Homo sapiens: one gene and its partner. The protein of the gene in region 2 purifies or fractionates together with the protein of the main gene of each other region. This does not show direct contact. Each region holds a gene or a part of one and is shown on either strand. Other genes may lie near its edges.

Region 1 (3,500 bases), about 56 Mb from region 2:
GAGTATCTTTTCTGGTAAAAAAAAAAAAAAAAAAAAAAAAAAAAAAAAAAAAAAAGAGAGAGAGAGAGAAAAAGCCCTCTTGTGTACTTTTTCTTTAACTGGGAGAAGTACATATACCTTTAACAGGCCAAATAATGCTGTAATTAGCAAACTGTCAATAATTATCAGCAAACACTCTTCTCTGAGCTTTTTATGGTTCTTTCACCAGATGCTGTCATTCCTTGAGCTCTATTCAGTGCTTTGATTTAACAATTACTCTTTTTGTTCAGAAATTGCTTATTTTGGGAACAACATATATACATTTGCATTTTTAAATGTTAATTTTTCTTTCTGGATGGAAAACAGCCAGAGTTGAAACAAACTAGCTACTTAGAGTTATAATTCCATGTGAGGGTACAATTTCATGAAGGCCATAGTTTCTGGCCTAAGGAATAAAAACAAGGTTGAAAAACAACTTACCTTCACATAGAGCTGCTGAAATTCCTCGAGATTTAGCCTCCCACTTGGACAGTCCTTGAGAAATCCTTTGTACCACTGCTTGAGTTCATGCTCATTAAACTCTGTGCTCTTCACCAGGTCCTCCATCACTTCAGGGGCCAGTTTGCTATTCTGCTTCCCCATCCTGCCTGAAGAAAAGCAAATTAATTCAATTAGCGCTGTGGCTGTGATCATTTCAAACTTGGTTAGGAGCCAAGCTAGAGTTCTGAGCAGTCCCATGGTCGGAACTCCCTCCAGTGTGGCTGATGCATATCTTCCCAAGTCTGCCTCCTTCTACTTGGTATTCTAGAAAAATATATGAGTGAAATAGACTCTTCTGACAGTTCCAAGGGCTGTAGCATTCACTCTTTACCTCATTGTGTCATCTTTCATATGGTGTTGACTCCCAAATGGAAGGCAACCATCCCTTTTTATGCTATTCATAGTAAGCATATAGAAGTTGTTTTTCTTTTCCTTCTACAAATTACACTTTATTAACACTTGCCTCCCAGGTGTTTAACTCTACATTTAGTTTAATGGGATACTCAGTGGGATTACTGACAAGAACAATGAGAAGACTTTATAACTAAATGATCAGTAAGTGGCTTGGAATATCCAATCAGCAATATTAAGGAGTCTCAGTTGGTCTGGTTCAAGTTGGAGCTTTTTTCCCCAATAAAAACAGCTATTTCTATTAGTCACACTAATTCTCTATTTCTCCTCTCATAATTAGAAAGTTCGTACAACATTGTCTTCAGAGTTGACAAAATCTTAATGGTTTTCTTCTAGGGATTGGTTGGGGAGTTTTTGTTGATATTATTCCAGACTGCTATTATTTCTGATTTTGAGTTAAAGTAATAGTGCATAAGATAATGTTACCTATATCCATTAAGCACCAGGTTGTGTGGCCAACATCACAGCAGGGAGTAGGGAGACAGAGCAGGCTTGAGATAATTCCTGATTTTTCTTCCTGATTTGGCCAATTACTACATGTGTTACTTAGGGCAACGTTAATTAACTGCATTATCTTCAACTTATTCATTAATAAAGCAGACATAATAATGAAGCTCTTTCAGATTCATTGTGATGGCTGATTAACAAGTAAGTAGGTAAACAAAGGCCAAAAAAAATTCCAAAATTAAAATAACTGCAGGAAAATTAAAGATAATTTTAAAATTTTCCCTTTAAAGTTGCTTTATAATAAATAATAATAAGACTATTGCTAATAATAATAATAAAAGAATTAACACATAAATTAACCCCAGATTGATTTAAAAAGTCAAGTTAAACTTGAAAATTGGAAAATTTCCAGAATCTGGAAAGTGCCAGATGATCTTTCAAATTCAGTTAAAAGATACTGAGTTAGGGTTGAAGAATTAACCAAGTGAACCTAGTCCTTCACTGTGCTTGAGACAAACTCTCTTTCAAGCTGCAGGCATGTCTACACTTGCAATAGCCTGGAAGGGGTAATCTCATCACATACTTTATTGTCATGATTTTTTAACTTCTCCTAAAACAGATTCCACACCCATTGTCAGTAACCTGCCCCAACATTGGCCAATTCTTTCACTGTAATGAAACTAAGCCACTCTTGCTACTTCCAGGGAAATTTCCACTCAGCACAATCTCGGCAGCACAAAATGCAGTCAGATGATACCATTAAGATGGCCATTTACCCTCCAAACTCGTCAGCATGAGAAAAGGGCCCAGTATCAGCAACTCTTCCCTTTGTCATGGGGCTTCTCTACTTATTTTTGCTCTGAATTCAAGTTCCAAATCTCTTATAAGCAACTGTCTATTAATTATAAGTTACTGTGGAATTCCACAGCTGGGTGTGGAAATCAAGTGGGTACTCAGGTGTCAGGTTTAATTAATGTGAGTAAGAAAACTCTAATTCATGGTTATCCTGAAAATCAAAAGATGTATTATTGTGAAACCTTTCAGTACTTTACTTTGGTTTTTTGGTAGAGAATTACAAACCTTCATTCTTAAACTAGAATCTCACCTAAGAAAAATAGCTATTTAATATTGAGTGCTGGCGATGGAGAAGGCACTTAATGGAACACCTCACAAATTTCATCTCCTGCTCAGCAATCACCGAGCAATCAGGATTAGGGGAGCTCCCTGGGGCTCAGAACGCTTATGGTAACTTGTATAAGAGCATACAATTAATGCATGGCGGAGCTAGAATTTGAACCTGGATCTATAGGACTCCAATGTCCAATCATAGACTGGTGGATGAAAGACATTTCAGGAGAAGGAACAGGAAGAGCGAAAGCAGGGAGGCTTCAGAGAACTGAATCAGTGCCTAGAGGGGATGAAAAAGGATCACTTTGCCAGCCTGGCTGCCTTGTTTGGAAAAGACTTAAATTTACCAAACCACAAGCTCAGAAGTGACTTTGTATTAAAAACCACCTCCCCCAAGTGCCTTTAGAAGTTCAACAACGTATCAGCTTCTTTGTTAGGCAAGGAAGCTTGGCTTCTCCATGGGTCACTTGTGATGTCTTAAACTGTTCCAGTTGACTTTGGAGAGGGTGGTCTCTTACACACACAGGAAATATTGTCAGGACTGTGAATCACAGTTTGGAGACTCAAGTGCATAACTTCATGCTTCTTGTATGGGTCTGCACCATCACTCAGGTGTGTTGGGCAATGGTTGAATCACACAGAAAGTCAGGTTCTGGCCTGGCTCAGAATGGCATTGCCACTGCCCTCATAGGCCTCATCAGATCTTGCCTTGATTAAAGATTGGCCTCCCCACTGGGCTACCTGACTCCAACCACTCTCCTTCTGCACAGCTGCCTGAGTGAATTTCCAGAATACAAACCTCATTGATCTACTCTCTAAAAGCCTCTGTACTTCTCCTTAGTCTCCATGATGCAACCTCATCTCCTTAGCGTGGCTCAGGTCCTGCCTACTTATATCCTCGTTTTCTGCCAATCTGTCTTTTCTCATGTGTCAGTGATTATAAACTATTATAGATTCCAGGATTGCATGCTTCCACACTTCCATGGCTCTGCATA
Region 2 (3,500 bases):
AGGGAGGACAGGCAGAAACCAGGAATGCCAACTTAGTAATACTGACAATTTCTCTAACATTTTCAGCCCTTCATGCTGAGCCAACTATCACCATCAATCACAATGTTCAGTCTAGGGAAATGTTAAGAAACAAAGAAAAAGCTGGAGAAATACAATCTAATAAAAAGGCCCTTGGAATGTAAAGATTATATTCAATATTAAACTTCTTCTGGGCATCTCACTCTGTCGCCCAGGCTGGAGTACAGTGGTGCGATCTCGGCTCACCGCAATCTTTGCCTCCCAGGTTCAAGCGATTCTCCTGCCTCAGCCTCCCGAGTAGCTGGTATTACAGGCGCCTGACACCACACCTGGCTAATTTTTCTATTTTTAGTAGAGACAGGGTTTCACCATGTTGGCCAGGCTGGTCTTGAATCCTGACCTCAGGTGACTGCCTCAGCCTCCCAAAGTGCTGGGATTACAGGCGTGAGCCACGGTGTCCAGCAATATTAAACTTCTGAGTTGGAAAATGCTTGACATTTCCAACCATTTCCAGTATATTCTGAACCTTCCTACAGGGGGCTGCATGCTGAACTTGTTTTTAACAACTGGCTGTTGGGAGCCAGGTCTCTGTCTCTGATACATTCTTTTCTCCCCACTTACTTCGTTGTCTTGTGAATAAGCCAGGCTTCGTGTTGGCCATGCAGCTGCTCTAGATAGGCCAGCTCAATTCCTTTCTCCTCCTCCCTGGCCCTCTGGTACAGTCTCTTCAAACAAACCTAAAAGACAGTCCCCAAGCCCTGATGAGCTCTTTGCTGTTTTGGCTGCTACAATGCAGTCTTCGGGGGCTCTGAGGCCCACCCATAATGTCTATCTTGGGCATTACAAGCCATGCCTTTGCTTCTGCTGTCTTGTTTTCTTATGCAATCAGAGGATCTACACCATTCTTTTCCCATCTCCACCTTAAACCTGCTCTTCCTCTGAAGTATCCTAAGTCGGTTAATGATGAACATCATCCATCCAGTCATCCAAGCCACGGACCTGGAATTTTCCTTGTTTTTCCTTCTCCCTACTATATCTGGGAAGTCACTCAATTCTCTTTCATCTCTCTAGAATGTTCTCTCCTTGCCTCTCCTCTCACCTCTGCCCTGGTCGGGTCCTCTTTACTTCTTACCTGGATTATGGCAAGAGCCTTCTGGTTCTGCCTCCTGGAGGCAGGGAAGCATATGGACAGAGTACAGGCCTTAAGGTCAGAAAGTCCAGGAGTAAATTCCTGCCTTCATAAGGTACTAGCAGTGCAGTCCTTGTGGGCTTCTATTTCCTCATTGTCTACCCATCCACAGGTCACTGAGGTAAGTTGTATTGAGCTCCTGGCAAAAGCTGTTCCCTCCTTCCAGTTTTTCCCCTTCACTCCACCCGTCTGTAGTACGGCAATATAATGACATGACTTTCCTTGCTGAAAATACTTCACAGGCTCTTTACCGCCTACAGCCATAGCCCCAGGGTTCAAAGCAGTATGTATGAATAGCATTGCATTTATAAAATGTTAGGTAATTTGAAATATCTCTTTCATGTCATACCAAACATTCACTCAGGAATAGAATGTAAAATTTGCACAGGTCAAAGATAAAACAAAGAAGTGGAAAAACAAGTGAGGCTTGAGACTAACTCTCCTCCCCCGCTGCTTTGCAGAGTGTACATAATTCTATTCTGCATTCATCTGGTAGTGAAGTTTGATGCACACTGGCTCAGAAAATGACATCTTCTTTACCTGTCACACAAAGCTACCCCTCCTACTTCTCAACTGCCTTAGCTCTTCCCCTGGACTCACTGCTTTAGCCAGATTTGACCTCTTTCCTGGGGAACAGGCCAGGCTCTTTCACACCTCAAAATTTTTGCTCCAAATGTTTGTTTTGACTGAATTATCCTCAGTCCTCTCTCTGCTTGACAAACATTTCATTATTCAATATCATCTGTCCTGGAAGAACAGATGGATTAACCCACTGATTTAGGACTTCACTCTTTTTTTTTGAGACAGAGTCTTGCTCTGTTGCCAGGCTGGAGTGCAGTGGCGCGATCTCAGCTCACTGCAACCTCTGCCTCCCAGGTTCAAGTGATTCTCTTGCCTCAGCCTCTCAAGTAGCTGGGACTACAGGCGGGAGCCACCACGCCCAACTAATTTTTTGTATTTTTAGTAGAGATGGGGTTTCACCATGTCGGCCAGGATGGTCTCGATCTCTTGGCATCGTGATCTGCCCGCTTCGGCTTCTCAAAATGCTGGGATTACAGGCGTGAGCCACCGTGCCCGGCCAGGACTTCCCTCTTTCAATAACTTACTTAAGAAATGAAAACTTAATTTCCAAATGTAGTACACAATAATCCCAAAGACTTGGGAGTCTTTGCTGTTTCCCTCTTATCTTACCTTTTCTCTAAGGAAATGAAATTATAGAAACAAATTTTATTAATGATCAAAAGGTATATGCACTTGCAATTATATACTGCCAGACTGCCTCCTTAGAGGTTAACCAATTTATATTCCCACCAGAAAGGTAGCTTTAGGATTTCTAAGCATAGCAAAGCTATCATCTCATTTTCCTTTCTGAGAAAAAAAATGTTGTCTGTTTCGTGAAAATAAATTTTTTTAAAATGTGACTTTATGTTTCCAAGTACACACACAAAGGCAGAACAATTCTTTTTAGGAAAGCTATTTATAATTATTCATTCACTGCTTGCAGACAAACCTTGACACTAACATTGATCTATTAAAATAAGCTAACATATTTCTATTTACTATTAATTTCCTTAACAGAGCAAATGGATTTCCCTGAGAAGTCTAAGTCTTAACTGGTGGCAGTATTGAGTGGGGAAAAAAAAAGAGGTCGAAGTAAACTCCTACTATGAGCATTTGGCATAACTCTTGCTTTACTGATATCGCTATAACAAATTCTATTTAAAAAAATCCCGTGCAAACAGTGCTTTAGTCTGACCCCTCTTCATCTCAGTCCTCATGAGGAAGACACACCTGAATGTGAACAGGAAAGATAGTGTAGCTACAAGTGGCGAGGGAGAGACCCTTTACTGGTCTTCTTAACCTGTCCCACCCAGGAAGAAGAACTGCTGCTCTGCTTGCTTGGAGTCAGAAACAGAAAATGGAAAGTGACTGCTAGTGGGTCTTTTCACTATGCCTCTCAAGCCCAAACCCAGGTGCCATTTGTCCCATGCACCTCCTGCATGCTGTCCCCATGCTGTGCCAGTCCCAGGTAGGGCCTGGCTTTTTGATGTACATTGATCAGCTGCACTCTCTTGATTCCATGGGGCTGGCTAGGAACACTGAGGCCTAGCTATTTCTCTTTTGAGTTTTAAAATTGTTAGCTTGCTTGTGTTTTAAAAAAAATTTTTAGAGATGGGGTCTCCCTATGTTGACCATGCTCGTCTTGAGCTCCTGGCCTCAAGCAATCCTCCCATCTCAGCCTCCCAAAGTGCTGGGATTACAGGCGTGAGTCACCGTGCCCGGCCTGAGTTGC

The links.
Region 1: the proteins of DGUOK (region 2) and VSNL1 purify together in Homo sapiens (affinity purification with mass spectrometry; 3 studies listed by BioGRID and IntAct, with this or other methods). This does not show direct contact.

What each region holds. Positions count from the first base shown.
Region 1 is NC_000002.12:17,589,196-17,592,695, reverse strand, and holds part of VSNL1 (visinin-like protein 1), read right to left. Parts: intron 627-3,500; 5' UTR 622-626; coding exon 460-621; intron 1-459.
Region 2 is NC_000002.12:73,954,380-73,957,879, reverse strand, and holds part of DGUOK (deoxyguanosine kinase, mitochondrial isoform a precursor), read right to left. Parts: intron 756-3,500; coding exon 640-755; intron 1-639.